Regions from separate parts of the Homo sapiens genome. Here all the other regions are linked to region 1. The links come from fine-mapping of genetic effects on gene expression. A gene starts in region 1. Each other region holds a variant in brackets. All regions are shown on one strand. Distances are from middle to middle.

Region 1 (10,301 bases):
CAGCCTCATGGGGAGGACAGACACTGGCAGAATTGCCGATAATTCCGTGATAAACGCTATGCCACGAGTATAGACAAAGGGAGATGACTCATTCTGCCTCGGAGGTCAGAGGAGGAGGAGACAGGACGTCTGTTTTGGTCTGGGGCGGCAGGGAGGAAGGTGAGGGGCATCCCAGGTGGAAGGAACAGCCCAGCCCGATGCACAGAGGCAAGGATGCACATGGCTGCACCTTAACAAGGAGGTGCCAGCTGTGGCTGGAGGGGACAGGACTGAATGAGGACAGGGCAGGCAGAGGACACCAGAAATGGCCCTGGACAGCATGGGAAGAACTACAGATGGGACCTTTATTCATAAGGCAGCAGGAGCCACTGGAGGTTATCTGCTGGGTTTAGAACGATCGCTCTGACAGTGCTGCTGGCCAGCACCTGGGAGGGGACAGGATGGAGGCAGGGAGGCCAGTGAGGAGGTCCCAGCAACAGCCCAACCTCTTCCGCCACCATTCTTTCTGAGCCAAGTCCTCCCCTCTTGTTTGGCTACAGCACACAGGCCACATCCCTTCCAGCTTCCAAAGACTCGCTCTGCTCACTGTGTTCCCTCTGCCAGGAATGCTCCTCTCACTCTTACCTCGCCGTGCCTGAAGCACCTGCTCAAAGGCCCCTCCTCCAGGAAGCCTCCAGCTCTGGTCGAGGCCTTGGCTATGAGCTGGGTCCCAATCACCCACTGGGCTGTGACCTTCTTGTGGTCAAGTGCAGGGATGCTTCCTGCTTGGACCCCGACATTAAGCACAGAACTTTGGAAACAGTGGGTCCTTGGAAAATCCCTGTTCCCTTGGGCCCAGTGCCCAGGTGCCTCTCCCGCAGAGACGCTGCTCTGCGCACACCGTTGCTGTTGCACCTCCTCCCTCCCTGTGGAGCCACACGTTGGATAGGGGAGGAAAAAGACACCCATGCCATGGCCACAGGCAGCTGTGGAAAGCAATGCATTTCAAACATGGGCTGCCATGGAGATAGAACAGCAATAACAATACAACAATGACGGCAGCAATCAGCATTTATTGGCAAAAGCACTGCTCTAAACTTCATATGGATTAACTCACTGCATCTTTACTTCAGTACCGTGAGGTCTGTACTGTTATTCTCCTGATTGTAAAGATGGGGACACTGAGGCACAGAGAGGTAAATGGCCTGTTCAGTATGTGGTGGAGCCAGGAGTCAACCCAGAACTTGCCCTGAAGGACTTCGCCACACAACCAACCTCTCCAAGACAAACGGAGAGGAAAAAGGAAGCTGCCGAGGAAGAGCCCACAGTATGTCCTCACTTGGGGAAAAAGAAAACTATGCATGGATTGGTATATGTAATATACATACATACATACATATATATATATATATATATATATATATATATATATGCATTAAGTGAGTAACAAAAAGTCTGGAAGGATACGTTCAAACTATTAACTGGGGTTACCTGCAGGGAGGGTGCCAAGGGAACTTTTACTTTTACTACATATATTTCTGGCTTATTTGCATTTTTCACCCAAGTATCCAAGTGTTACTTGAGTAGTTTAACATGAGAGGAATTATTAGGGTTGCAATTAACATTTGTTGCATGAATAGATGGCAAATTCATTTCCTAGGCTTGTTTTTTTCAAATTCTGGGTATGACCCATCAGTGGATTGCAAAATTAATTTCGTGGGTAGCAATCAGTAATTAAAAAAAAAACAAATACACAAGAACAAAAAGGATTACAGACCAGCAGACACAGTAAGGGAGTTATTTCAGTAAACTTTTGTTTCAGCTATATACAGTGTGACCTGTGTAGTTACCTACGATGTATTTCTTACTATAGGTCACGGGCAAGAATTTGAAAGCAATTGGTCTAGGCTTGGGAGTCTAAAGAGGAGTAAGGCTGGGTGCAGTGACTCACTCCTGTAATCCCAGCACTTTGGGAGGCCAAAGAGGGAGGATCGCTTGAGCCCAGGACTTCAAGACCAGCCATGGCAAGACCCCTGTCTCTAGAAAAAAAAAAAAATTTAAAATTAGCTACGTGTGGTGTCGGGCGCCTGTGATCCCAGCTACTCAGGAGACTGATGCTGGAGGATCGCTTGAGCCCTGGAGGTTGAGGCTGAAGTGAGCTGTGTTTGTGCCAAGGCACTCCAGCCTGGGCCACACAGCAAGACCCTGTCTCAAAAATAAAACAAAGAGGAGTAAGACAGGGTCCCTGCCTATGAGAGCCCCACAGTCTAGTGGAAGAGAAAGGCAGCTCCAGTACCCCTGAGTTCCCTTTATCTCCACAGAAGCCAGAGGGATGCTAGGCTGGTGGGAAAGGTCCTATTTTGCCCACTCCACAGTTGGCTTCTGGGGCCTGGATCTCACCTTGATACATTCTCCTCCTCTCCAAGGCTTTTGCTTGTGAGAGCTTTTGCCAGAGTTATGGGGCTGAGCCTGCCCTGAGATCAGAATGATGTGTCCACTTCTGTGTCACGCAAAAGGCCACTTTTCCTTGCTCCTGGGCCCCGAATATACCGGCTTGCCTGTCAAGAGGGGGAGGGGTGGGAAACTAGAAGATTCCTTTCCAGTTTCTAGATCCCGAGGGCCACGTCCCAGGAAAGCCTCTGAAAACCCAGCTGTGTGGTCAGCAGGGAGGGGCCACCATTCAGTCTGCAGCGAGGGCTGCCCCCCACCTGGGGTGGGCCTGACCCTGAGCAGAGCGAGGACTGTATGGAGAATGGAGGGGGGCAGGGGCAGGAAGAGAAGCAGAGCCCCCAGCTCGGGGCTCCCATCACGCTGGCGCCTCCACATCAGAGCTAGCCTAACCCACCCCCGCCTCTCCTCCCAGGGCAGCAGACAACTAAAAAAAGATAAAATAAAAAGAAGTAATTCCCCTGCTCTGACGTCAGCGCGAGGTCTTAACAGCCCGGCAGCGGCATGAAACTGGATTGCAACCAGATGTAATGCCCTTGAATTCTCAACACACTACTGCATTGGAAAGACATAAAAGGGGGGCGGGGGACAGTATTGGTGGGAGGAACCGTGCAGATCCCGAGTGGGTCCCTGAATCCGGGCCCGCCGAAACCGCGGGGAAGGCGGCGCGGGAGAGTGTGCGGCGCGCGGAGCAGCGCCCGGCCGGCTCCGCCATTCAGGCGCGCGGCCTCCCCTCCCCCAGCCCCCACCGGCGCATTGTTACACTCGCTCCCATCCATTCAGAGCCCGAGGCCCGCCGCGCCCCCGCCAGCCCGGGCTCCGCGCAGGAGAGCACCGCGGCAGCCCGCACTCCGGCCCCTGCGTGGACTGGATAACGACCAAGAGCCCCAAGAAAGAAAACTGCTAGCCGGGAAAACGGGCGCCCCAGGAAGCTGGGGCCGCGACGGCCTAGGGCCTGGCTGGTGTTTCGCTTCCCCTCCGCCCCACCACGGAGGCCCCTGGCGCGACCAGGCTCCAAATGTCACCCTCGCGTCCTGCCACCCCTTGTCCCCGCCGCACTCGGCCCCCATGTCCTCCTCCCGGGTTCCCTGCCTTCAAGGCGCGTGAGAGGGGGGGCCGGCCTCGAAAAGGGCGGCGGGCTGCGCCGCCGTCTGTGGGGCGCAAGGCTCGCGTGTCCGGGGCCCCCGCCCGTGACGTCATCCCCGAAGGGCCCGTGCCTCCCGGGCCTGGCCGCTACAGAGCTCCCCAGGTCGCGGGGGCCGCTTCCTGCCCGGCCTCGGGGCCTGCGCACAGGCCCCGGGGCCGCTGCCCGGGTAGGGACACCGCAGAGAGCCCGAGCACCCATCTCGCCACGCACGGCCTTCGCCGGCCCTGACTCCCAAGCGATGGCCACGCCGGGCCCGGGTCACGCATGGGGAAGTCAGCTCCCCGTCCCCCACCTCGGACGCACTCACAAAGCTCACCTCCGCCCCCGGCGCCCCGCGAATGCACCCCACGTCCCCACCCCACGCTCCGCAAAGACTCCGCGCCTCGGCGCAAGCAGATCCCTTGCCACACTCGCCCCTCGCGCCCCCATGCCCCCACCCGACCTCAGCTGGCCGCACATCCCCCAGAAGACCCTCAGCCGCGGCGCAGGGCGCCCCCACCCTGCAGCTCCCCAGACGTCCATCCGGTGACCTCGCGCACCCCCCACACCACACAAAGCAAGGACCCCGCGGACCCCACATCTCCACCCAGCGCGCGCGCTCGGCGTCCGAACCCGCCTCGGCTCATCACCCGGCCTAGGATCCCGACGCCTCGCGCCGCCCCCGCCCCGGGGCAGGATACACTGCGCCCCCCGCGCCCCGGCGCTCGCTGCTCACCTCGGCGCCCGCGCTCACTCGGGGGCCTTGGGTCTGGCGCTGCGACTTCGCGGCCCGGAGGCCTGGGTGGCCATGGGGGTCGGGGCGCGGCGGCCCGGCCGGCCCGCGGCCAGGCAGGAAGGAGGGTGGGCCGCGGCGCCCCCTCCTCGCGCCGGCGCTAGGGCCGCGGGCAGGGCGGCCTGCTCGGCTCGCCTCTCGCCCTCGCTGCACTCGCTCTCCCACTCGTCTCTCGGAGCCCAGCCGCGGGCGGGGGCGGCGCCCGGGGACGCGGGGAGCGGGCCTTGGCCGCGCACCCGGCCGGGCCTGCCTGGTGTCCGCGGGTGCCGCGAGGAATGCGATCCCCTCCGCACAGGAAGAGCGGACGAGCGGACGGGCGGGCGGGCGACGCGCGGGGGGAGAAGGAGAGCAAGAGCGCGAGGAAAAAAGTTCCCGGGCGGCCTGGCTGCGCTCGCTCGCGGCCCCGGGCGCCAGGTGGGCCGTGCGCGCCCCGACAGCACCCCCTGGCGGTCCGCGCGCCCCACTGCGCGCCCCCCGCCCGCTGGCCGGCCTGCGGGAGGGGGCCTCTGCGGTGGGATCCCGGTGCGGCCTGGGAGGACACTAGCGCCCTGCGTACAGGAGCTTCCAGCGTCAGGCCAGGCCCCCACCCTCACCCCACCATTAGCCCTCACCTGTGCCCACTTCTTTGCAGTTTGAGAAACATTTTCGATTTCAAAACTCCATTGGCTTCATGTAAACTTCATTTACTGGGCACCTGGCACCTTGCTGAGTCTTGAGGAATCAGCAGAGACAATGCGGTCCCTGCTGTCGTGGAGCTGGCATCCTGGTGGGAAGAGACAGACAGCAAACAAATGCTTAGATACATGACGAAGATAATTTTAGAGCAGTAAGTGCTAGGACGAAAATTAGCAGGTGAAGTGACGGCTAGGGCTCCTTGGCTGGGGGAGAGAGAAGGAGGCCTGTCTGTGCAAAGATCTAAATAGCAAGAGGAACCGCCATGGGTAGAGTCTGGGAAGAGCATTTTGTTCTTTTAGAGGCAGGGTCTTGCTGTGTTGCCCAGGCCGAACTTGAATTCCTGGCCTCAAACAGTCCTCCCACCTCAGCCTTCTGAGTAGCTGGGACTACAGGGGCCTGCCCTCCTGGGAAGAGCATCATTGGCAGAAAGAACATCAAGTGCAAAGGTCCTGAGGCAGGAGAGAACTTGGTGAGTAAGTGGAATTGTGAGGAGGCCGTCAGCAAGGGGACAAGTAATGGGCACATTGAAGTCAGAGCCATATCGGGAGGGCCAGAGCCTGCAGGGCTGCAGAGAGCTCAGTGAGGAATTTGTTTGCAATTCTAGTGCAAGGAAGGTAGCCACTGGCAGACTTTAAACAGAGGCATGTTGAATGAGAGAGTCCTTGCATGAAACTTAAGGTACAGACCTCGGAGCAATTTCATGCCTAGGTCTCTACTTGCCATAGCTCAGGTGGGAGCTCACTGCCACCTGCTTGGGAAGCCTCTCAGCCCCACCCAGGCTCTAGGGTCTGTGGGATATGACCCCATTAACAGCCCCATCGAAGCCTCCCTCATTTGTCCTTTGGTAGGGCAGAGGGGAGCTGGTCAAGGCATCAGAGCTTGTGGGTGACCTGGGACAAGTGAATCCTGCATCTGCAAAATAAGGTATTGTGATAGATGGGGGGCCCTCACTCTGTCCCAGGCCTGCTGTGCCCCTTCTGTGCATGGTCTCATTAGATCCTGGTGCCCCCTCTGTGAGGTCGGCTCATCACATTTTGTGGATGAGGAAACAGGCGCAGAGTGGTGAAGTCCCCTGTCCAGGTTCTCAAGCTACAGGACAGAATCAACACAGGTCCCCACAGTCCTTCCTACTGGACTTGGCTACCCGTCTCCCAGGGTGAATGTCAAGAGCAAGACAGAGCTGGATCCCAGTGCGAACTGTGTTGTTTTAAGCTTGTTTTAAGTGCGGTTTCTGGATGACAGATCTGGTTTATTTTTATTTATTTATTTATGTATTTTTTTTTTGAGACGGAGTTTTGCCCCTGTTGCCCTGCCTGGAGTGCAATGGTGCGATCTTGGCTCACCACAACCTCTGCCTCCCAGATTCAAGCAATTCTCCTGCCTCAGCCTCCCGAGTAGCTGGGATTACAGACATGCACCGCCACACCCACCTAATTTTGTATTTTTAGTAGAGACAGGGTTTCTCCATGTTGGTCAAGCTGATCTTGAACTCCTGACCTCAGGTGATCCACCTGCCTCGGACTCCCAAAGTGCTGAGATTTCAGACATGAGCTACCGCGCCTGGCAAATCTGGTTTCTAAACGTGGCTCCTCTATGCCCAGCTGGGTGGCTTTGGGCAAACTACTTAACTTGCTGAGCCTCCGTTTCCTCATCTGTAGAATGGGGATAATAGTACCTACCTCATGGGTCTGTTGAGAGGATTGAATGAGGTACGTGTGGAAAGCATTTAGCTCACAGCCTGGCATGCAGTAAGTGCTATTACTGCTTTAAGATGCTAGATTAATGGGAACAGTCCCTATCATCCATCCAGGGCTCCCAATCTCCACCCCGAGCTGGTCTCCTGCCCTCCCTGCCTTACCTTAACCTGCTCCTGAGTGGAGCCTAAGGGAAGGCTGGTTCTAGGGACCCCAGTGGGAGGCAAGACAAGGAGGTCTTGCTGGGAGATTTCTGGTTCCCACACAAGGGTCCCCAAGACTAGCTTCTCCACCTGGAGAGGGTGGGAGACCAGCTGGAACCCCAAGGAGAGTCAATTTTCTGGCCTTGGAATTAGGTATTTTTTGTTTTGAAAATTCCTTGGTATCAAGTTTACATGACTGGGGCCACTGGACCCTGTAGGCAGGGCTGGGGGTACAAAGAGGATCACAAGCCTGGCCTCTTTGGGAGCCATAGCTCAGGCACCACTCAAGGAAGCACATTTGTTCAAGGGATTAGCATTTCTGGATGTCAGTTCAGCGAAGGGTTGGAGGAGGTGGCGATTGAGGCAGACCTCAGAGGATGGGCAGGAAGGGAGCCCTGGGTTGCAAAGGGGATGGGTGTCCCAGAGAGTGAGAGGAGGAAGGAATATGCAGGCAGATGGAAGAGGGTGTGCGGTCAAGGTACTAACAACTGCTTTTGTGTGTGAGTGTGAATGTGTGTATATGTGTGTGTAAGACAGAGTCTCACTCTGTTGCCCAGGCTGGAGTGCAATGGTGTGATCATAGCTGACTGCAGCCTCAAACTCCTGAACTCAAGCAGTTCTCCCACCTCAGCCCCCTGAGTAACTGGGACCACAGGCATACACCACTATGCCTAGCCAATTTATTTTTTATAGAGATGGCATCTTGCTATGTTGCCCAGGCTGGTCTTGAATTCTGGGCTCAAGTGATCCTCCTGCCTTGGCCTCCCAAAGTGCTGGAATTACAAGTGTGAGCCACCACGCCTGACCAGAACTGCCACTTTTGAGTACCTACTGTGTGCCAGGTGCCTAGGGATGTTGTAACAAATTCCACAAGTGGCTTAAAATAACACAAATTAATTAATTAATTAATTTATTTATTTATTTATTTATTTATTTATGACAGAGTCTTGCTCTGTTGCCCAGGCTTGAGTGCAGTGGCGCAATCTTGGCTCACTGTAACCTCTGCCTCTCGGGTTCAAGTGATTCTCGTGCCTCTGCCTTCCAAGTAGCTGAGACCACAGGCACATACCACACCACCAAGCCTAGCTAATTTTTGTATTTTTTGTGGAGAGTGGGTTTCACCATGTTGCCCAGCCTAGACAGATTTATTCTTTACAGTTCTGGAGGTCAGAACTCCAAAATCAGTTTCACTGGGCTAAAGCCAAGGTGTGGGCTGGGCTAGCTCTCCTGGTGCCTCCAGGAGAGAATCTCTTCCTTGCCTTTTCCAATTTCTGGAGGTTGCCTGTGTTTCTCAGCTTGTGACCCCTTGGTGACCTCCAGAAGCTAGAACAGGCAAGAAAACAATTGCTTCCATTGTCCCAGCTTCTACTTCCTCCCTTGACCTTCCTGCCTCTGCTCATGAGGACCCTTGTGATTCCATTCCGGTCCACCTGGATAATCCAGGCTAATCCCTCCATCTCAAGAAGACTCTTAATTTATTTAATCACATCTGCAAGGACCCTCTGAATGCTGTCTTGCCTCAACTCATTTTACAGATAAGAAAATCAAGGCTCAGAGAGGTGAAGTCACTGATCCAAAGTCACACAGCAGGTGAGTTTAGTCACCCATTTCATGCATGGAGAGCCCACTGTGGGTCAGACACTGGGTTAGACCCTGGGTTGCAATGTGAAAGTTACCCATGAAGAGTGCTGTGGTGCCCAGGCATGCAGAGTAATGACCTAGTCCTGTCAAGGAATTCAGGGAAGGCTTCCTGGAGGAGGTGATTAGTGAGTTGAGCTTTCAAGAGTGATTTTCCTCTGCCTGCTTTAACCAGGGAGGCTTCTGAACAAACGAGGGCCCTTCCAGAGGAGGACAGCCATAGGCCTAACCATCCTGAGACTGCTCTGAATGATGCTGGTTGAGAGGGCTCAGTCTTCTCAGAAGAGAACTAGGAACTGATCAGGGATCACTGTCAGCAGAGCTAGCCCCAAGACACTTCTGCTGCTGACCCTGCTTGTCATCCTTAGTTGCACACAGGTAGAAGGGTGAGCAGGGGTGTGCACGCTATGCAATGCAGAGGCTCAATAAAGTCAGTGTTGGGGCAGAGTCTCAAACTTGCAGCTCAAAGGCCGAACTCAGGCTGCTAGGTTTGTTTTGATTGGAAAGCAGAGCAAAAAGTGAAAATTTTGAAGTTGACATACGTTGCCAGGTGCAGTGGCTCATGCCTGTAATTCCAGCACTTTGGGAGGCCAAGGCGGGAGGATCACTTGAGCCCAGAGTTCAAGGCTAGCCTGGGCAACATAGTGAGACTCATCGCTACAAAAAAAAAAGTTTTGTTTTGTTTTGTTTTGTTTTTAATTAGCCAGGTATAGTGGTGCATATCTGTAGTCCCAGCTACTTGGAAGGCTGAGGTGGGAGAATCGCTTGAGCCAGGGAGGTCGAGGCTGCAGTGAGCCATGACAGTGCTACTGCACTCCAGCCTGGGGGACAGAGTGAGACCCCATCTCAAAAAAAAAAAATAAGAGAGAGAAAAGCAAGAAAAGAAAGGAAAGAAAGAGAAAGAGAAAGAGAAAGAAAATAAATATCTTTAAGGAATCTAAGTTCTTCGGGGCCCCACCACTACCTATTGTTCTATACCCGCATTTAAATCACCTGGCTGACCAACCCCTCAGCACACCCCGACACACACACACACACATACACACACACACACACACACACACACACACAGCCTTGGGTTTCAGACACCTTCCCCCCAGGGTTCTTAACACTCACATCTGTGTGGCCTTGAACTTCCTGTCTGTTTTCTCATAGGTCAAAAGGAGATCATGTTTCCTGCCTGGAGGAGAGGCCCCGGTGGACTGGAATAGGAGAAAGTGGAGGGGGTGTATTTCAGGATAGAATCCTGCACCCTGCCAGGGACCACGCTTATCCTTGGCTCACTCAATAGGATGCAAGGGCGTTTACTGTGGCCAGGTGATTCCCGCAGCCGCTGTCTCACTAGGTCTCACCTGCATTTCAATAGCCTCCTTGTTCAGATGAGGAAACACACTTAGGGAATGAAGTCACTTGCCCAAGATCACACAGTCATACTTAGAGTAGGGATTCTCCTGGCCTGAGCTCCTGCCCACGCTGCCGCCCCGCCTCCTCTGCGATGAAAACTGGATGGAGGCTCCGGGCTGTTCTTACAGAGCCCAGGCAGAGTGTGAGTGTGCAGGAGGACTCCCATTAGCAAGCATGTAGCTAGTACTTATTTGGCACCTACTATGTGCATTTCAGTCTTATTATCTCCATTTTGCAGAGAACATAGAGGCCTAGAGAGGGGAGGAAACTCTCCCAGAATACCTTCTTCTGTGTAGGTAGCTGTCACCCAGGCTCTCTGCTTAGACAGTAACAGAGGAATG
Region 2 (10,301 bases), 77 kb before region 1:
CTACTTCCAGGGGCTGCCATTCCCACCCCAGGAAAGCGGGGGGATGCAGGGAAGGATCTGGGGGAAACGGTGTTGCCAATTAACCTGTTTTAGACAATGCAAGTTGGAATCTCAGAGAAAGAACTTTTTTTTTTTTTTTCCAGAAAAGCCTCCATTTGAGGCTGTGTGATAAATGATCTCTGGGTTCAGCTCTGGCCTCGGAATCCCAGCTACAAATGCCAGCGGGGAACCACCTGGAGCAGGAGGGTTTCCAAGTGGCCTTTATCGACTCTGCCAATCATCGGGCCAGCCCCCATGGGAGCCTCTTGCTTTCAGCCCTAGAGAGAGGAGGGGGTTGGGGAGTGGGCAGTGTGGGCAGGAGTGCAGTGGGGAGGGGGAGGCGGGTGCATGAAGGAGTGAACAGGCTGTGGAAGCACAGGCCTCCTGGATGCCCTGTGTCCTGGGGGCTCTTGGTTCTACTGAGCTCACCTCTACCTGCCCCTCCCGACAAGTCCCCCACCACAGAGCAGAAATGACTGGGATCAAACCCCTGGCCAGTCACAGCTGGCGAGTCTCTGAGCAAGCACCTCACTTTCCTCTGTGTTGCCACAGACTCTGGAAGCCCAGAGAGGGTGGGCCACTTGCTCAAGGTCACACAGGAAAGTAAAGTGAATGCTGAGAGCCAGATCTCCTGCTTTGGTGGGGAAGCTCCCTTGCTGCTGGGGGTAGAGTCAGAACTTTCCCTCAACTAAATTTGAACCTCTTAGCTGTCTAAGGTTAGGGGTACTCCTCCCCAGCTTCATTTCCCACCCCGCTCCCATGCACACTCCAACCACACTGGCTCCCACTGGCTCCTCACACATGCCATGCCCCTGACCCCCAGGCCTTTGCACATGCTGTTCCCTCCGCCTGGGACGCCATCCTCCTGGGTCTTCTCCAATGAGCCCAGTCACCTCATCTGAGAAGCCCTCCCTGACTGCCCTGCCTAAGGGAACTCCCCTAGTCCCTAGCTCTTACCACTCTCCAAAATCACCTCCCTCGTATATTTATTCACTCTCTTTTCTCTCTGCACTGGTAAGCTCCGTGAGGGCAGAGTCCATCTGTCTTGTCAGGGCATACAGCAGACACACGCATGCCCAATGGATGGGTAGCTGCTGGTGGCACTCCAGCCTCGAGCCCAGTGCAGGGATGAGGCCTGTGGCTGTTTCTGGGCCGCGCTCACACTCAGGAACTTCTGGTTCAACCAAAAGTCCCTTGGATGCCCTGAGACCTCCCTCCCATGCCTCCCTCCCTGCTGGGCCCCCTGTCCTGAGACCTTTCCATCCCCCCACCTGCCCTCGCTCCTCAGTGACCACCACCTTTCTCCCACTCAACTGTGTTCCCTGCTCAGATGCTGCCCAGGCCCCAGTCACCAATCAGACACTGTCCCTGCCTCCTTGGCCTGGCATTCACAGGGGATTCCCACCCACCTCCCCAGCTCCCAAATTTCATGCCCAGCAACAATGACTTACAAGGAGCTACTGGCACCCTCTGGGAGTCTCCCAACCTTTTGTGCCTCCCAACCTTTCCACCTGCTCCTAGTTTGCCTGGCAAAATGCTAGTAGGCCTTGTCACTAGTTCAGGGATCACCTCCTCTCAAATCTCACTGTGACTTTCCAACTGATGCCTGCCCTAGATACCCTCTTCCCCTTCCACCATCCCCCGGGGCACTGGCCACTCCACAGGTCAGGATCCACAGCTGTCAGCCTCCCAGCGAGCCTGCTGCTTCCAGTTCCACCATGGTGCCCCTGTGCCTGGCACAGAGTAGGTGCTCAGAAAAAGCTAATGACGTGGGCTGGTAAATGGATTGGTACGATTCCAGAGGCTCAATCTGGTGGCTGCATGTGTGCCAGGAACCTAAGAGACCAGTGAGGAATCTGCCACCCCCACTTCCTTGGGCACTAGTTAAAAAAAAAAAAAAAGCCTTAGAAGAACCATTTTCATTTGCCAAGCACTTACTATGTGCCAGTCCCTGTGCTGAGGCACTCACATATGGGTCGCCTCTTTCAACCCTCAGGACAATACTGGTCTATCATTATCATTTCCACTGTAAAGATGAGGACTCTGAGCACAGAGAGGACAAGGAACTAGCCTAAGGTCACACAGCTGGGAAGTGAATGAGCTGGGGCTTGAACCCAGGTCTGTTTGACTCCAAAACACTTTCACTGTGAATGAGCTGCCTATCCCCTGAGTATGCAGTTCTAGGAGGTTCTTGGCAAGGGGGTAATCTGCGGGGCTTCCCTCCTGAGCCCTCTACGCCCATCACCTATAGGCACGCCTTGATGCCAAACTTCTCCCTCCCATAAATCAATCCCCAACTTCTTTGGCTAGGAGGTGGGGGCTTCTTCCTGAAGCCTTTCTTGGCCTGGCCCTGGGCAGCTAGGACCAAGCAGGAGGAAGGGTTTTCTGCAGTGTGGCCCTAAGCCCTGTGGCACCAGCACCTGGAACACATTTTATTTTAGCTCCACACGTTCCCTGCAGGGTGGTGCCACCATTTGACAGCCGAGGAGACCAAGGCCCAGGCCCCACAGCAGCTCCAGCTTCTAGACTCTGGAAAGATACACCCTTTGACTTCTGGGTGGGGCTGGGGGCCTCCTTGGTGTGGGACTCTGGGAGTGGACGTTGGACGTCAGGGGCCCCTCTCCATGGCGGGGACCCAGGGCTAGGCCACTAACTGAGCTGCCATAAACCCTCGGCATCCAGGAGTTCCCAGGCCAGGGACACTGGGCTGAGCCAAACTTCTGGGTACAGTCTGGGTGACCTTGACCCTGATGCCAAGCCCATCCCGAGTATGCAGGATGTATGGGCTTCCCTCCTGAGCCCTCTAAGTCCATCATCTACAGGCACACCTTGATGCCAAACTGCTCCCTCCCATAAATCAATCCCCAACTTCTTTGGCTAGGAGGTGGGGGATATCAGTAAAGTGGGGGCTATCAGTAAAGTTGGCCCCTCACTGTCTACCCTTCCACCATTACAGCACTGCTCGAGCACACAGCCACAGTGACCTGGGCACTTGTCTGTCTTTCCCCCAGGGCTGGCAGCAGGTGGGGGCAGTACTCTGTCTGGGTGCCTAGTCCTGTCCAGCACAGGGCTCTGACCAGGAGGGAGCCCTCTGGGGATGTCTGTTAGATGAGTGAATGGACAGTTATGCATTTATTTCCCTTCTGCTTTATTCTACAGCCCATCTCCTCCAGGAAGCCCTCCCTGAAAAACTTCCATCTATTACCCCAAGCATCCAGAGCCCTTAATAAGCACAAATCTTACCCCAAGACTCAATTTAGCCCCAGATCAAGATTACAGCATCCTAGTGGGCTCTGTCCAACTTGTACTCAGCTTCACGGACACAGCTTCCACTTCTTTTCACAGCTCTGCATTCAGCATCCACTGGGGGCCTGTCTCCATGCTTGGTGCTGAGTGCAGCAGTGGGCAGGCCAGGCACGGCCTCTGCCCTTGAAGACAAGCACCGAACATTCTAGGTCAGCTGGGTCCCCTCTGGCTAGCGTGGCTCTTGGCAAACCTCACCCCGAAATATGTGCAGACATGGGGAACTATTCCAGCGTATGAAGGGCGAAAAGCAGGTCACTGAGGGTATGCAGAAAGAACATGATGCAACTTCTGTTTTAAAAAATGTGTATCTGTACCTGGTTCTGGAGCAACTGGGCCCAAAATGTGACCTGGCCATCAGAGGGTGGGGGTGGTGGGGTGAGACTGCAGGGAAACATTATTTTCTTGAGACTTCTATTTGCTGAATGTTCTGCAATGAACATATATATTATTTGTCACTAGGTGGAGAGACTGCCAACGGACGCATCCATAGCTGGGCTGAAGTCTGTGTCTCAACTTGTGTCCTGATTTCTGGAGATGCAAAGAGTGAGACAACTCCTCGTAGTTGGCCACTCTGACCTGGCAAGAGCCCACAAGCTCCCTGCCCGCTTCTTCTTCTCTAGGCATGCTGTCCCAGGGTCTGAGGTCACACCACCCTTCCCCATGTGGGGATGGACATACAGCAGGTGCATCTTAACAGCTTGCAGAGAGCAGCCAGCCTCCCCTGCTTCCTGCCTGGGCAGGTGTTCTCACCTGCGCAGGCCTTGGTATCCTTATCTGCGCAATTAGGGTGATACTCCCCAAACCCAAATCTTTGTTCCTCCTCAGCTGAAAACCTTCCATGGCGACCAGAACCTCTAAGTAAAAACTCTCTTGCTTGCATTCAAGGTCCTGCACCCTCTGACCCCTGCTCCCTCTACCAGCCCCCCTCCCCACCAAAACAGGTCAGCCTGTAATCCACCTGTCAGCTGGGCAGCTTCATACCCCTGGGCCTTTGCATACACCAGTCCCTCTGTCCAGAACACACAGACCCTCCCCTGTTCATCCTTCAAAACCCTGCCCAGCATCAGCCCCCGTGAAGGGCCCTCTGCGATATCCTCACCGCCCTGAGTATGCTCCTCGTACATACGTTGATCATTGCACAACTGCAATTAGGGGTTGGCGCGTCTGTCTCCTACCAAGCCAGATGCGACAGGGATTGGGCCTTTTGTCTTTGTTTTAAATCTCTGGTGCCCAGATACTGCCTGCAGAGAAACAGGCACTCAGGAACGTCTAGCTGACAGGTGGGTGAGTCGGTAAACAACATCTGCACAGCCCTTTCCAGTTTACGAAGCCTTTTCC[T/C]GTCCTCCATCTCACAAGCTTCCTCTAACCAGGGCAGCAAGGAAGGGAGGCTCCCGGAGCCCGTCCCTGTCCATAGGTGCTGCCTCTGAAGGCCTGGGAGCTTCAGGGCCCCTTGTCTTCACCTAGGCAGGAGCTGGGGTCTTCAGGGCTCACCAAAAGCAGCTGGGACCTCCTTTCAGCTGTAAGCCACCCATTTCCTCTGCCAAAGGCTCCCTCCCCGCCCATCCCCTGGAGAGGGTTTGCTGAGTGCCCAGGTGGTGGCCGGGTTGGTAGGGCTTGTGGCGGCCCTGCCATCCTGCCCGGAGCTGCTGGGATGCGGCCGCTGGAGCAGCAGCTCCACCACCGAGTCTTGGTAACAGTTGCTATGTAAAACGCTCGGAGGGGGAATTTACTGTCAGCGTTAATAATAGATGAAGGTTTCAGAATTTCTGATGCCTTACGTTCTAAGCCGTTTGATTTATAATGTCTCTGGAAAGGGAGAGATGAGGGTGGGGGCGAGGTAGGAGGCCCAGAGGCATGAGCTGGGAGCTCATCTCCCTGCACCTTTGGCAGACAGGGAAACCGAGGCCCAGAAGGGGAAAGCTACTGAGTCGTGTTCTTCCAGAATGCCAGGACCCGTGGGGACTTCAGATGCCCAACACTGCCCTGTTCCATGGGAGGGGAAACTGAGTCTCAGCCTCTCCCGCCCCGGCGCCTGGGGTTGTTTTGATGGATTACTGCTTCTCCTTTTAGCGTGAGCAGGTGTATCTCAAGTAGTCTCCGGAAGTGGCACTGATGGGCGCCTGCGGCGGGGGCTGTGTGGGGCTGATTACAGGCGCTACAGAGGCAAAATGCGAGTCCTAACTTCCCTTCTGCTTAGCTGCAAGTGGTAGTGGTTGTTGAGTTGTGGGAAAAAAAAATCCTCCGAGAAGAGGCGGCAGCCACGGCTGGGCAGGAAACAGGGCTGTTTAACTGGGGTCCTGCTGTCCCAAGAAAGCCGCAGTGCCCGAGGGGGAAGGTGGAGCGCAGGCAAGGCACACACTGGCAGGTGGGCCCCGCTGCAGCCAGGCTGTCCCCCACCCCTACGGCAGGCTGGGGTTACTGGAATTGAACTGGTCTGTAGAAGGGTTGCTGCCCTCTCTGTGCTCACATCCTGCCGCCCCCCGGCTTGGCCCACACTGCCTCCTGATCTGGAGCTCTCTCCTGCCTCCGCAAACCCACCTTGGCCTCTCAGTCCAGGCTCAGGAAATCTTTCCTGACTCTGCAGCCAGATGAGCTGCCGTCTTCAGGCCAGAGAAGCCAGGCCCAGGGCTGAGCACCCAACACCTCCACAGCTGTCCCCACTTATAAACTGGGGTGTGTCTGGGCTCAGGGTCTCCCTGCCTCAGGGAGCCAAGAGCTCTCCCTGGACCCCGCTCCAAGCATGTGACACCACCCTATCCCTCCCTGGGCCTCCATCTGCTCCTCTGTAAATGGAGGTGGCCAGCCTGACCCCGCGGAGATAGGGTGAAGTGTACACAGGGCCCGGCATTCAGCACCCTCTGGGGGCTGCCCGAGAGGGCCCACAAACTCTGAAAGGCAATGGGCATGCGGTTAATAACAATGGCAACAGTCATGAACAGAATACCGTTCCCACCGGGCAAGCACATCACCCCAGTGAACAGGTGGGAAGCCTGAGGCCTGGCCAAGCACACCTTCACAGAAGCCCCTCTTCCTCCCCGTCCACTTCCCTGCCTCGTTACCGACGAACTGATTTGCTTTCTCCAGTGCCCCCGACTCAAGCGTCTGCTTCACTAAGAGGATTTTTGGTCTATTTTGTTCACACTGTGTCCTGAGCACCTGGGACAGATTAGCACGTAGTAGGCGCTCAAGGATTTGCGGAAGACTCTATGGAGATTTTCTGATTTGAAGCTAGCACACTTTACTTGACTGCATCTACCTTTATACGTAAGGGAGGTAAAGGTGAAGAACAAGACAGTGGAAAGCAAACACACTATTTCAAAGGAGTTTCCAAAAATAAAAAAATTCATTCATGCCAGGTGCAGTGCTCACACCTGTAATCCCAGCACTTTGGGAGGCAGAGGCAGGTGGATCACCTGAGGTCAGGAGGTCCAGACCAGCCTGACCAACATGGAGAAACCCTGTCTCTAATAAAAATACAAAATTAGCCAGGCATGGTGGCAGGCACCTGTAATCCCAGCAACCTGGGAGGCTGAGGCAGGAGAATCACTTGAACCTGGGAGGCAGAGGTTGCGGTGAGCCGAGATCACACCATTGCACTCCAGCCTGGGCAACAAGAGCAAAACTCTGTCTCCAAAAAAAAAAAAAAAATTCATTCACTCCTGCTGTGGCCAGGCACCCCCGTGCCAGGTCCCATGATGGATGCTTAAGTTTCGCAGGCTCCAGAACTCCTGTCCCAGGGGAACAGGGACACAGGCAGTCCCAACAGGCCCTGCAATAACCAACCAGACCCCACATGGAGGCTGGCCAGGCCCTCCTGGCTTTCCATGGTGGCTAGGGCTCACGTAAGGACTGGGTGCACCGAGGGCCGCACTGGGGACACTGGTCCCTGGTGAGCTGCAAAGAGCGGCCAGCTGGATTTATCACTAAAGGGAGAGGGTTGGGGATAGGGAAGGGTGATGTGTGCAGAGGGTACAGCCCTGCCCAAGCTGTGAGGCACGGCAGGCCTTGGGGTGAAGAGAAGGCGGGCTTGACAGGGTGTAGGCCGGGTCTGAGGGATGCTGGGTGCCAGGGGAGGAGCTGGGCTTTGTCAGAGAGCCCTGGGGCGACCCAGCCAAATCTGAGGGTCAGGATGACATGACCCCATGGGAGAAAGCATGGCTGGGCCCAGGATAGGATAAGCAGGGAAGGATCTGGGGGGACGCACCCCTGCTGGCTAGGACACTGACTGATGGAGGAGGACATGCTCCTTGGAGGGACTAAGGGTCTCTGCTGGAGAAATGCCCCCAAACAAAGAGCTCTCTCCTGAGTCTACCACCCTCTGCCCTCCCTGGGCTCCAATGTCCAGGCCCCCTGCCCTTCAGTCAGGCCCAGCTGGGGCAAGTTGGTGAGGGTGACCCCAAGGTCGTGGCAAACAGGGAATGCCAACTCACCCTGCCAAGTGGTTCCAGTGCCCAGTGCTCTCCCTGCCCTCCTAACTCTAGGCCTACACCTCTCCTTTCTGCATCACTCCCGCCCCATCCACCCAGGGAGCAAAGCTGCCAGAAGCTAGAGCCCACTTAATCAGCCACTCAGCATTCCATAGAGCTGTATTACACACCATGCGCTGGGCCCTGTGTGGAGGGCTCACAGTCCAGCACTGGGGTGCTGCCAGGCTCTTGGGGTGACAGTGTGTAAACAGGCCTGCTAAACCAGGGTGGCAGCACCGTGACAGGAAGGCTCAGGCTGTGGGAGCTCAGAGGAGCCCTCTAAACAGTCCAAACGTCAGGCAAAGCCTTCAGGGGGAGGCATGGTGTGAATGTTGTGGGGGTACAGCTATGGCTATTTCCTCTCCTCTCCTGACCTCCCCGCTGTCGCACTCCAAAGCCTGTGTTCATAAAGCCGCTCCAGACAGGTGGGCCTTCTCTAATCCAAATTACCAGCCCTCTCAGAGCCTCAGTTTTCCTGATCTATAAAATGGACCCAATGAATGTAGACTGGGAAAGTGCTTACCAAGCACCTACTATGTAGTTACTCCTCTCTCCCACCCTCTGTGCAGAGACGGGCCTTGCACCCTTGCCCTATCTTCCTAACCCAAGTTGAGGCCTGGTGGCAGCCCCCCAACCACTGCCCAAAAACGCTTAGGGCTCTGGAGTACCAGGAACTGAACACTAGTAGGTACAGGCTGTCGGATATTATTTGTTATGGCTTTAATAACAGTTTACAGAGGGCCGGTTTCCCATGGCTAAGGCACATAATTTCTGTAACTTTACTAGTGCCACTAACTTGAGTTGTCATGGGAGGCAGGAGGGGAATTAAAGATCAGGTTAGGGAGGCTGGGCGCAGTGGCTCATGCCTATAATCCCAGCACTTTGGGAGGCCGAGGCAGGCGGATCACCCGAAGTCGGGAGATAGAGACCAGCCTGACCAACATGGAGAAACCCCGTCTCTACTAAAAATACAAAATTAGCCAGGTGTGGTGGCGCATGCCTGTAATCCCAGCTACTCGGGAGGCTGAGGCAGGAGAGTTGCTTGAACCCGGGGGGCTGAGGCAGGAGAACTGCTTGAACCCAGGAGGCGGAGGTTGCGGTGAGCCGAGATCGCGCCATTGCACTCTAGCCTGGGCAGCAAGAGCGAAACTCTGTCTCAAAAAAAAAAAAAAAAAAAAAAAAAAAAAAGATTGGGTTAGGCGAATGGCATAAAATGCCTTTGTACAAAACAGGAAGACACCCCAGGTGCCAGGCTGCACAGCTGGCCAGTGGCTCGATTTCTTCCAGGGATCCTTGTACAATGTACAACTTGTACAACCATACACTTTGGCCCTAGGTTCAGGTGAGTGTCAGCATGGAGGCCTTTCCCCAAATAGGTCTCCCCTGCTTTACAGACCACCCAGCCCAGGTATGAGACCTTGAGATCCAATGCAAAGTTGAAGTGTGTGTGGACAAGCACATTTTTCTGAAGAGGGTCTAGAACTTTTTTCCAAATCCCAAAGGATCCACAGTTCCTCCAGTCTAGACTTGAATCTGGAGCCAGGGTCTGGGGCAGAGAACGGTAGACTTTCTAGAGCCTGGAGAGGAGTTCAAATGTGTTCTGAGACACAGATATCTGTCATTCCATTTCTCAAATGATGGACTTAAGACTGAGTATCAAAACCACACACAGGCAGTTTGAATAAAAGGGCATTCCTGAGCCCCACCCCTTAAAATCTGTGATTTGAGGGTGGCCTGAGCCCAGGAATCTGCTCCTAGTACAAACTTCGGGGTGGTTTATAGCACCCAGCAAAGCTCAGGAAGCTCTGATTTAATACATTGTTATTAGCTTGGCTCAAATTGCATTTTCTTTTGGTGTTGGTGAGGAAACAATGTATATACCCCAGAGATCACCCAACTCCCAAAAGGCTATCCATGTATAACCGTGAAGCCGATTTCATGAGTTTAGCTCCCTTTTGTTTTGTGGGAGTGCCATGGGGGTAAGGGGTGTGGAGATTTTCTCGCTGCTCTACCACTCCAACCCCCACTCCAACCCTGTCAAGCCAGGACAAGGCACAGCAAGTAATACACAAACGAAGAGTCAGATGCTGGGGCTCCCAGGTCTGGTCGGCAGGGGTCCTGAGCAGCCCTCACTCCAGGCCCCTCCAGCCTGTGTCTGTGACCCTGCCTTCCTCCTGAGGCAGGGCCAGCCCCTGGGGCTCCTGTCTGGCCAGCACAGTAGGCCATTCACCAAGGGCACACACCAAACCAGGCTCCTCGGGCCTGGGGTCCAGGCCAGACACTGACCCAGTGCCCTGGCTTTGGAGACAAACTCTTCTGTGTCTGGGTCTGAAGGCACATCTGTCTCCCTTCCTCCCAAGTCCCGGGCCAGTACAGCCGGCACCACCCACCAAGGAAGCCTCAGGCAACCTGATGAATGGAGGCATTCAACAACACAAACCGAGCACCTACTGTGTGCCAGGCCACAGACAGGGCCCTGCCCTGAGGCAC
Region 3 (10,301 bases), 22 kb before region 1:
GGGAGGACCACTAGAGCCTGGGAGGTGGAGGTTGCAGTGAGCTGAGATCATGCCACTGCACTCCAACCTGGGTGACAGAGTGAGACCCTGTCTCAAATAAACAAACAGTCTTCCAGGAACCCTCTCCCCTCTCTCAGTCCCCTCCAGCCACAGTGGCTCCCCTGCTGTTCTTGCAACATGGAAACACGTTCCTGCCTCAGGACCTTTGCACTGCTATTCCCTCTGCCTGCAATGCCCTTCCCTTTGACATTGCAAGGTTCACTGACCTCCCTCGAGTCTTTGCTCACCTGTCACCTTCTCAGGGAGGCCTTTCCTGGCACTCCAATTTAAAACTGCACGCATCTCCCCCATCCCTGAGCCCCTTCCCCACCTACTTTTTTTTCTCACTACATCTATCTTCTTTTTAAAAGTATTTAGTTATTTTCAGAGACAAGGTCTTGCTATGTTACCCAGGCTGGATTCAAACTCCGGGGCTCAAGCGATCTTCCCACCTCAGCCTCCTGAGTAGCTGAGAATACAGGTACACACCACCATGCCCAGCTAATTTATGTATTTTTTGTAGAGGCGGGGTTCTGCTATGTAGCCCAGGCTGGCCTCGAACTCCTGAACTCAAGCGATCTGCCTGCCTCAGCCTCCTGAGTAGCTTAGGACTAAGGAGCATGCCCCAGATTGCTCGTCATTAGCTGCCTGTCTCCCACTAAGACAGGAAGGAGCTCACCAGGGCAGAGATCGCTGTCTGTCTGCTCACCCATGGGCACCTAGGGCAGAGCCCAGCTCACAGTAGGATCTCAATAACTGTGTTTCAAATGCATGGATTAAAACATTCCTGTTACACAAGACCAGCATTCCAATGGTGGAATCTTTAAAAACTTTTCCCCTGTGGGAGTTTCAATTCTTTTTTTCCCCTGAGCCCACACAGAGAAGAAATGTGTGCTTCCCGGCTCCCAGGGCAGGCCCCACCCTCAAACCAATGGTTTGTCTATGGGCAGGAGGGGTGATTCTCACTTCAATGTCCTGTCCATTCACCACCCTACATCCTGGACATCTCCCCTGGATGCCGCTCGGGTGCCCCAACTCTACTCTGATCCCTCAAACTTTCCCCGTCACTGCACAGGGCCACCCCCATCCAGTCCCCGGCTCCCTCTGGCTGCTGGTGCAGCTCACAACCACTGGCCATCCAGCCCTGGGCTTTCCCTGGCCCTGCTCTTCCTCTTCAGACCCATGCCAGCCCTTGTCCACCTGGATCCTTGGCCCAGCTGCCTACCTGGTCTTCCTCCCTTCAGCAGCTGGCCTCTTGTTTCACCTATGCATGCCCTCTCATCATTCAGTGCAGAGCACTGCACACCCCATGACCCAGGGACCAAAGTCCCCCTCCAGCTTGGCCACTACACGGTCCCATCCCTGCTGGCCGGACCCAACTGCCTAGTGCTTCCTGTTACCTGTAGGCCTTTCTCCAGCAGACCCACTCCCCCAAGTGCCATTCCTTCCCTCGCCCCAGCTCTGCAAATCTGACGCCCCACCCCAAGCATCCCATAGGGCTGCTGACCTCTGGGCAAGCACCGTGGCTCTGCAGAATGATCCATAGCTCCCTGCTGGCCTGTGCGCTACCTCAGGGCCTATGAAACAGGTGGTCAAGTGGCGTTTGGTTTTTGTTGCCTTTTTTTTTTTTTTTTTTTTTTTTTGAGACAGAGTCTCGCTCTGTTGCCAGGCTGGAGTGCAGTGGTGCGATCTCAACTCACTGCAACTTCTGCCTCCCGGATTCAGGAGATTCTCCTGCCTCAGCCTCCCGAGTAGCTGGGACTACAGGCACGCGCCACCATGCCCAGCTAATTTTTGTATTTTTAGTAGAGAGGGGGTTTCACCATGTTGGCCAGGATGGTCTCCATCTCTTGACCTCGTGATCTGCCCACCTCGGCCTCTCAAAGTGCTGGGATTACAGGCGTGAGCCACCGTGCCCAGCCTTTTTGTTTGTTTTTTGAGAGAGGGAGTCTTGCACTGTCGCCCAGGCCAGAGTAGAGTGGTGCGATCTCAGCTCACTGCAACCTCTGCCCGCTGGGTATAAGCGATTCTCCTGCCTCAGCCTTGCAAGTAGCTGGGACTGCAAGTGTGTGCTACCACACCTGGCTCGTTTTTGTTTTTGTTTTTGTTTTTGTTTTTTGAGACGGAGTTTCGTTCTTGTTGCCCAGGCTGGAGTGCAATGGCACGATCTCAGCTCACCGAATTTTTGTATTTTTTAGTAGAGATGGGGTTTCACTATATGATGGCCAGGCTGGTCTCAAACTCCTGACCTCAGGTGATCTGCCTGCCTTGGGCTCCCAGAGTGCTCGGATTACAGGCGTGACCCACTGCACCCAGCCAAGAAATGTTTTTGAAGGAATAAATGATGTAAAGAAATTGGTGATAAAGCAAACAAATGAGTGAGAAAATGAGTCAAACAATTATAGAAACAGATTGGTAATAAAGTTCTATTTTTTGACGGGTCTCCTCCATGGCTGTTGTTCTCCTGGATGGACCCCTGGCCGGGGGACAGGCTTGAGTGATGATGATGATGATGATGAAGAATCAGTCAGGATGTGCTAGCCATGTTGCTGTAACAAAACTCTCAAATCTCAAGGGCTCACAACAACAAAAGTTGGTTTATCCTTCACACTACCATCCACTGGGGTAGCAGGGAGGCTCCCTCTCACTGAGCAGTTGCCACCTTGACTTTGGTCTACCAGAGGAAAGTGAGTTCTGTGGATCCTCATGGCCATGAAAGGCTCTGGCCTAGAAGGGACATGTCACTTCTGCTCACACCTCACGGGCCATAACTGGTCACATGACCCTCCCCCGGCCCCCCCACCCAAAAACCACCAGGAAGCACAATTTCCCCACGGGCTTGGGAGGGTGGGGAACTGGAAACTTTGGCCAACATCTCTAAGGACATCTCAAACACCACCACCAATAACAACACAAGCAGCAGAGGCCACGTATTAGCTCCTCCCATGCCCTGGACACCAGGCGAAGGACCTGAAGTGGGAGTTTCACTTACTACTCATGGTAACGTCCTGATGTCAGGACTATGCATATCCTGCGTTCCAGATGAGAGTTAAAGGCTACACAGAAAAGGGACTCACCAAGGTCACAGAGCTCATGAGGATGGAGTTGAGATCGGAACTCCTGTCTGTGTGTGCCAGGCCTTTACACACCCCACTGCCCGGCACGGGTGCCTGGGGAGGCTGGCTGGTGGTTAAGGACTGCCCTGGGGAGACAAAGAGCCCCCCACATGGAGGGCCATTCTGACCACCCCACCACAAAGAGCCCCCTCACACTGCCATGTTGTCCACTTTCAGGCGTCCAATGCTAGAACCCCTGGAGATGATGTGGCCAGTCCCAGATTCTGCTGAGAAAGAGACAGGCCCAGAGGGAGCAGTGCTGGAGCCAAGGTCACACCTTGTGCAGGGCTGAAACGAGACTTCAAGTCTTTGTCCACCATGGTCTGAGTGTCCCCAGCTGCCTCAACAGCACTGGGTGTCCAGGGACAGCCTCTGCCTCAGGAAGGCCCCTCAGAAGCAAGGGTGAGCACACGCACTCCACTTTCCTGGCAAGCCAGGCAAGGGCACAATGGTCCACCATGGCAGAGTCCCCAGGCCCTGGCCCATCAAGCCTGCCGCCCTGACTGCTTGGGCCACCCCCCGAGGAGCCGGGCTGCCCTGGTGCACAGTGGCTCACTGCTCCCACGGTCAGTCCCCAATAGGGAGACCCGAGAAGCCTGGAGTGAGGGAAGACCATGCTCTAAGGCTCCCCAGCCAGGACCTCTGAAGACAAGGACTTGGGCCCTCTGGGAAGCCAGACGAAGGTTCTGGGCAGAGTGGAATGGAACAAAAGAAAAGGGGTTGGTGGAGTTTGAAAACAGTCCCAGCTAGGCATGAAGGCTCATGCCTGTAATCTTAGCACTTTGGGAGGCCAAGGCGGAAGGATCGTTTGAGCTCAGGAGATCGAGGCTACAGTGATTTATGATCATACCACTGCACTCCAGCCTCGGCAAACAGAGCAAGCCCCTGTTGCAACTAAAACAGAAACAAAAAGAAAACAGACCCAGCTCTGCTCTGTGACCTTAACCTCTATGAGCCTCAGTTTTCACTATGCTTGTTTTGCCCACCAATGGCCCCCTCCCCCTGAGCCCCAGAGCCGGAGCCAACACCTTTCCAGAGCCACAGGTGGGTCCCCACCCCAAAAAGGTTATGGGAGAACTCCTGCTCCCGACGCTACAAGAATGCACTGCCCTCAGAGAGTCCCTTCCAAAGGTTTTTGGCCTAGGGGCTTGATCAGAAAGCAGTCCCCACCCTGCATGGAAACCCTCACACGCTCTATTCCCCAGGTTTTGCTGATGATTCTGACTTGCAGTGCAGCCTTCCTACGTCAGCCTGGCCTCCCAGCGGGGCAGTAGGGGGCGCGGCTGTCCTCCTGACCCTGACCTGGACAGGAAGTTGGATCCTCCCTAGCCTCCTGTGAGCCCACTCCCTGCCTGGAAGCCTTGAGTCTCCAAGTCCCCTTACAGCCGCTGTCCAACTCCTGGGGGTGGAGGTGCAGGTTGGGAGGAAGAGTGATGGAGCCTCTCCACTGCTTCTGAGCCCTGCTCACTGCTTACTGCCCCAATCATCCAGTCCACAAGCATTTATTGAGCACTTACTACACGTAAAGTACAGTGCTAACCACTGTCAGAGAGATGAAGTTGAAAGGCAGGGCCCCACCTCCTCACGTCTGGCAGCAGCAGCAGATGCATTACTGATGCCGCACAGCTCCGCAGTTACAAACACAGGCTTTGAAGTCACACAGCCCTGGGTTTGAGGCTTAATTTTGCCACCTCGGAGATGAGTGACTTTGAGCTCACTCCTCACCCCGACTGGCCTCAGTGTCTGCATCTGCAAAATGAGATATTAAGAGAAGCCACCTCATGGCTGGTGATAAACTACTGGATACCAAGAGTTTCACATAGCCTGGCAGGGAGGTGCTAAACCCCTGTGAGCCTCATTCCTTGCCTTGACCAGAGCAAGGGCAGAACCCCGAGGCATGCCAGTAGGGACCTCCCTCTAGGTTTCTACCACCTCATTAATCAGTGACGACTGTCTACCCGGCTGTGATGCCACCTGACGCTCCTGGCAGCCTGCCCATTCACCTCCATTTTGTCTGCAAGGACATCTGGGGACAAGAATGGGAGAAGGGGCATGGAGTTGGGCAGCAGGCCCCACTGCTATTAGCCCTGATGGGGTCACTGCTTATCCCCCCTTCCCATATACAGTAGGCTCACAATCATCATCCGAGGCTTGGCCTGGTAGTGAGGAACCCAGCTGAAGATAATAGGCTGCATCCTGGGATGAGGTGGGTGGTACAAGCTTTTGTGCCAACTGAAGGGTCTGAATTTGGTCCTCTTGGCAATAGGGAGGCAGTGAAGGTTGCTAGGCAACAGAGGACCCTCTGCCCACCTCTCCAGCCTCATGCCTCCACACTTTGGAGTGAGCTCAGTTTTTCTGTGGTTGTCCCTTACTCCCTCTCCCCTCATGTCAGCCAGTGTTCTGCCCTAGCCAGGGCTGAACTCCAATTGTTTCCCTACCTGGAATGCTATTCCTGCCAATTAGCTCACACTTATCCTTCCTTCCAGGCTGAGCTTAGAAGCCTCTCCCAGCCTTCCCAGTTTGAGCTCAAAGACTGTTCTCTGCTTCCTTTAAATTGGTCCTTTTTCCATTAGAGGACAAGTATTCCTTTCGAGCGCTGCCTCCCCGACTGGAGTCCTTGGAGGGCAGAGCCCAAGTCTGACTCCCCTCTGTGCTCTCAGCATTGCCTGACACAGGCAGGACCAGGGCTGGGTGGCCTCCCAGTGGGCACTGTGCAATGCTTCAGGCTTTGGTCTCTGAGACGCACAAAGGGAGGAGGGATGGGACTGGAAGGGGCAGAAAGGAGGGGCAACCAGGCATGGTGGTGCACACCTTGTAGTCTCAGCTACTTGGGAGGCTGAGGTGGGAGGGTTGTTTGAGCCCACGGGTTGAGGGCTACAGTGAGCCATGATCGCACCACTGCACTCCAGCCTGGGCAACAAAGCAAGATG[C/T]GGTCTTCAAAGAAAGAAAAAAGAGGGGCTGGGTACAAGGGGACATGGAAGAGAGAGGGGAGGGAAAGGGGACCATCTAAAAACTGCATGAGCGGTCTGTCTATTCCCTCTTCCGTTTTCCTTCCCTCTGCAAAAAGAGAAGAGTGAGAGAAGGGAATGAGGGAGAGAGGAGGGGCAGGCGCCTATCCCAGGATCACTTGATGGGGTGGGGAGGAGCACAGGGAAGTCCCACAGAGAATACCATTAGGTCTCAAGGTTTCCCTGAGGTTCCCATCAGTCTCACAGCCCCCTGCCTAGGCAGAAGGCTCAGGGCAGCAGTGCAGCCCCCACAACCCCAGGGCCATCCCCAGGGAGATGGCAGGGGCATGCAGAGATAGGGCAGTCAGGCAGACTGGCCTCAGTGAAATGTCAGTCCAGAGGGAGGACACACCCAGACAACCTTCACCATGGGCTAGCCCACCCCTCAACAAAGGGCCCAGACCCATCCCCAATCCCATCCCAGGAGGACAGGGGCTCATCTTGTTGGAGGCGCAGGGGTGGGTTTCAGGGAGGATGAGCGAGGAGGGAGAGGGGTCTTTGTTGCAGGCAGAGGTACCAGCTTCTAAAGACGAGGGGAGTAAGGCCGAGATGAGGCATCTGGGGTCTCTGCGAGGTCACATTCAACCCTCAAGAGCGCCTGGCACGTAATGTGCAACCACCATTATTATTGTTCGTGCAGAGCAGGGTGGCACTGGGTCAGTGGCAGCAGCGGTCCCGAAGGGCCTTGAATGCCAAGCCCAAGATGGCCGGGGGACGGCGCGGGGGAGCACGAAGCCGGCGCGGTTGAACGCCGGGGAGCGGGCGAGCGGATCTCCGCCGAGGCAGGGCGATAAATTAATGAAACGAACGCGCCGCGCCCCGAGGACGAGAGGGGCCGGACTGCGGCCTCGGCGGACGAGGCCCGGCCTCGCGGAGGCCCCGCTGCTCTCCTCTTCTCTCCCATCCCCTCCCCTCCCCGCCGGGCGTCGTTTTCCAGGTAATTAAGGCCGTCCCGGCCGGCGCGCAGCTGCTTCCGCGGCCGGCCGCGCCTCAGGCCCGGGCAGGTGCAATTAAACCCGCGCGTTCGCAGCCATTAAGCTTTAATGGGGCTCATTAGCATAAGAACGAGAAGACGCTTTGATGGCGGCCACCCCCGCAGGGGCTGCGCGCGAACGCCGAGGGGCGGCGGGGCGCGGCCGCTGGAGCCCCGAGCCGGGAGCCGCGCCTCCAGCTCGCGGCCCGAGTCCTGCCAAGGCAGTCCCGCCTGGGGCCGGGCGACAGGAGGCGGGCCGCGGAGCTTGACCTCGTCTCAGGGGTTCCAGGCTGCGTCCGAGAGCCAGAGGTTTCACAGGGCCCAGGCCCCAAGAATAGGTCTTTGAAGGACGAGGGAGGAGGCCCAACCTAGAGAGCAGATGTGCTTTCCCAAAGAAGCAGCTGAGGAAACTGAGGCCTAGAGGTGCCATGTGACACACAGCCCCGGTCTCAGCCTGCAAGTGGTTCATTTATTCAACAACGATAGCAGCCAAGGCTTATGTGAGTTTTAAGGATTTAGCATAAATTTTCTCACTTAATCTCCCCAAGAGCCCCAGGAGTAGTGGATACTTGCTCTTGTGATCCCATTTTACACAAGAGGAATCTGAGGCTTGGAGGGGGACACCCAAGGTCCCACAAGCCACAGTGAGCTTTGAACCTCGACAGTCTGGCTCCTGAGGCTGGGCTCATAACTAGGAAGCCACACTATCATGTGTGACATGACCAGGAGAGGCACAGGGTGGGGTGGAGTGGTGGGGGATGGGACCGTGACCAGCTGGTGGGCTGGGTGGGCCATCCTACCCGGCAGACAGTAGCCATCTCCACCAACTGTGGCCGGGGGAAGCAGGGTAGAATAATCCAGAAGAAATGTAAACTGGAAATTGGAAATGAAGTCACTCAACGATTACTCACTGGCAATTCATTTGATTCCCCCCCCCCCGGCCCCCCGACAATGGATGGGCTTTCAAAACAGGTCTGTGGTCAGGACGTGGCAGGAGGACCACCACTTTGCCATCTCAGTCCAACATGGAGTGCAGTGTGCCCAGCAATTACTAGGTGTTCAGGAAACACTAGTCAAGCAAATGAATGAGTGAATGCATGAATAAATGCTTTTCTCTGCAATTTTGGGGCAAAATAGGGGACTAATTCTTCAATTTAATGTTTTCCAGGCTTTCTTCGATCCAGGTGGCTCTGTGAGAGCAAAAGGGCCCAGAGGAACTGGCAGGTGGGGCCTGAGGCAGCGGTGCTGTGCTTGGCTCCAGGCGTCCCCTGGGGCAGTGCCTCCAGCATTCCAAAGTCAAGGATGTTGCCGACAGATGTCTTGAGGGCCCTGGCAGGGAGCGCAAAAAGCACTGAAGAGGAGACATATACTGCCTGAGTTCCACTCAGAGGTGACGGGAGCCAGAAGGAAGCCACCAGCCTCTAGGAGCCCAGAGAAGGTGGGCAGTTGCCTGAGGCCACACAGCAAGAATCTGGGTCTCCTGATTCCTTCAATCCCGGCTGAGCCTTTACCCAGTGCCTGGATCAGCCCCCAGTCTAAGCACAGGACTCCCTGTCTCCATCAGAGAAGCTCTGCCTGGCCTCTGTCTTGGCTTGTGATCAGCCGGCATTCCCATGCATGAATGCACGACTCAGATCACTTGATTCTTTGATTAATGTCTTTCTTCCTTTGGCCACACCTCCCTCAAGGGCAGGGATTTTGTGTGTCCATCCAGATCATGGCTGATCTCAGTGCCTGGCACACAGTAGGCCTCCAAACATAGATATCGACCAGGTGGAAGTATTATTACTACAGAGTCACAGCGCCAAAGAAAACTCAGTGCCTGGGGTGAGCTTTCCTACCTCCCCAAGCTCTCATGCCCACTCACAGCTGGCTCAGGGGCTGAGAGGGGCCTCAATGCCTCCACAGCTGAGCTGGCCTGGGGGTGCAGGCAGGGGAAGGGCTCAGCTCCCCTTCCTGTCCTGACCCTGAGGCTGGCCCACCCCCTCACCTCCGGTCTGCAAAGGTATCTGCCCCAGGGGGGCCCTCAGCAGCCTCATTAGGAAAGTAGTGACAGACACATTCAATATAAAGGGGTGTGGGGGGAGGGGGAGACCGAGGGCTGTTACAGGGTTGTCTGCCGCTTTCCTGACTACTGGGCCAGGGCTGGGCCTAGATGGGGGACAGAGACAACGCCCAGAATCCAGAGTTGGGCCCCAAAGCAGGGATTTTCCCATCATTCCTTGCTGTTCTTGAGTACTGGTGGGACTCAACTCTTGAGTGGCAGGAGACAAACCCCAGCCCAATGCCCTAAGCCTGCCATGAGCCACCCAGAAGCCCGTGTGTGAGAGCAGCCACAGGGACCTGGGCGCCTGCCCTCTGCAGCAGAAGAGGAAACTGAGGTCCAGGGAGGAGGAGCAGGGTCACCCCACAGCAGCGCACTGGAGTAGGAGCCATGCTTTGCATTAGGGCTATGGCTGTGGGCCTGGACCACCTTGACCACCGAACTCCCTCTAGTCTCTGGACTGCAGGGCAGGAAGGCCCAGTTCTACTGGAAGACAGTCAGGTGTTGTCAGTGCTCACCCAGGGCCGGATGGAAAAGCAGATGCCCCAGCAACTCAGTCAGTGCGCAATGCCCCACCACTGATGAAAAGTGGGTGAGAGAGATCCAGGTCTCACACCACAGGACATGCACACAAACAGCTACTCGGCCACACACAGAGGTGCCCCCAACACACAAAGAACGTGTGACCTGCTGTGGATACTGCCTGGTGTGTAAGCACCCATACCCTCAGCTCATTTCCCCAAATCAGACACACACACAACCACACGTTGGTCCCAGTGACAAACAGACACACAAGCCACCTAACAGCAACCCCCTGCCATGTACACAAACCCCAACTCACTTTTTACACACACACAATCCCCAAGCTCAGGAACACACGCAAACCCATCTTGTCATTTGGTTAAATTCCACACCCAGGTAACACCCAGACCACAAGAGCAAATCCAGATAAATAAATCATGTTCAGCACATCAATCTCGGCCCCAGCCTGGCTGCCTCCTGGATACAGGTAAAGTGAAACAGGTCTTAAATATTTTACAACTGAATAAACCTGTTAGAGCGGGCCGTTGGCTGCAGGCTGACAATGTCCCTCCCTAATCTTTTCCCTAATCTTTTCATTT

What was found. PIP is the estimated chance that this variant, and not a neighbour inherited with it, causes the effect.
Region 2: its variant is fine-mapped to the expression of RAI1 in whole blood (TOPMed, PIP 0.94).
Region 3: its variant is fine-mapped to the expression of RAI1 in whole blood (TOPMed, PIP 0.93).

Annotation. Positions count from the first base shown.
Region 1 is chr17:17,675,782-17,686,082 of GRCh38, reverse strand. RAI1 (retinoic acid induced 1) reads right to left here and starts at 4,625. Exons shown (of 6, transcript NM_030665.4): 1 at 4,290-4,625. It overlaps SMCR2 (Smith-Magenis syndrome chromosome region, candidate 2), which reads left to right and starts at 8,395. Exons shown (of 4, transcript NR_131243.2): 1 at 8,395-8,508; 2 at 9,712-9,873. RefSeq lists silencers at 2,965-3,914, 3,901-4,073, 4,085-4,164, 4,225-4,364, 4,395-4,904 and enhancers at 3,983-4,584, 10,051-10,301.
Region 2 is chr17:17,752,890-17,763,190 of GRCh38, reverse strand. All of the region lies in intron 2 of RAI1 (retinoic acid induced 1), which reads right to left. RAI1-AS1 (RAI1 antisense RNA 1) reads left to right here. Exons shown (of 2, transcript NR_130894.1): 2 at 3,805-4,037. Among named protein-coding and RNA genes, the nearest start is that of RAI1-AS1, 8.3 kb to the left of the region's middle. RefSeq lists enhancers at 1-526, 5,556-5,655, 10,235-10,301. The variant T/C (reference allele first, on the strand shown) is at 4,684.
Region 3 is chr17:17,697,404-17,707,704 of GRCh38, reverse strand. The region is part of intron 1 of RAI1 (retinoic acid induced 1); the gene reads right to left. LOC124903943 (a long non-coding RNA gene) reads left to right here. Exons shown (of 2, transcript XR_007065650.1): 2 at 1-10,155. Among named protein-coding and RNA genes, the nearest start is that of RAI1, 21 kb to the right of the region's middle. RefSeq lists a silencer at 1,236-1,530 and enhancers at 6,949-7,460, 7,940-8,457, 8,458-8,976. The variant C/T (reference allele first, on the strand shown) is at 6,086.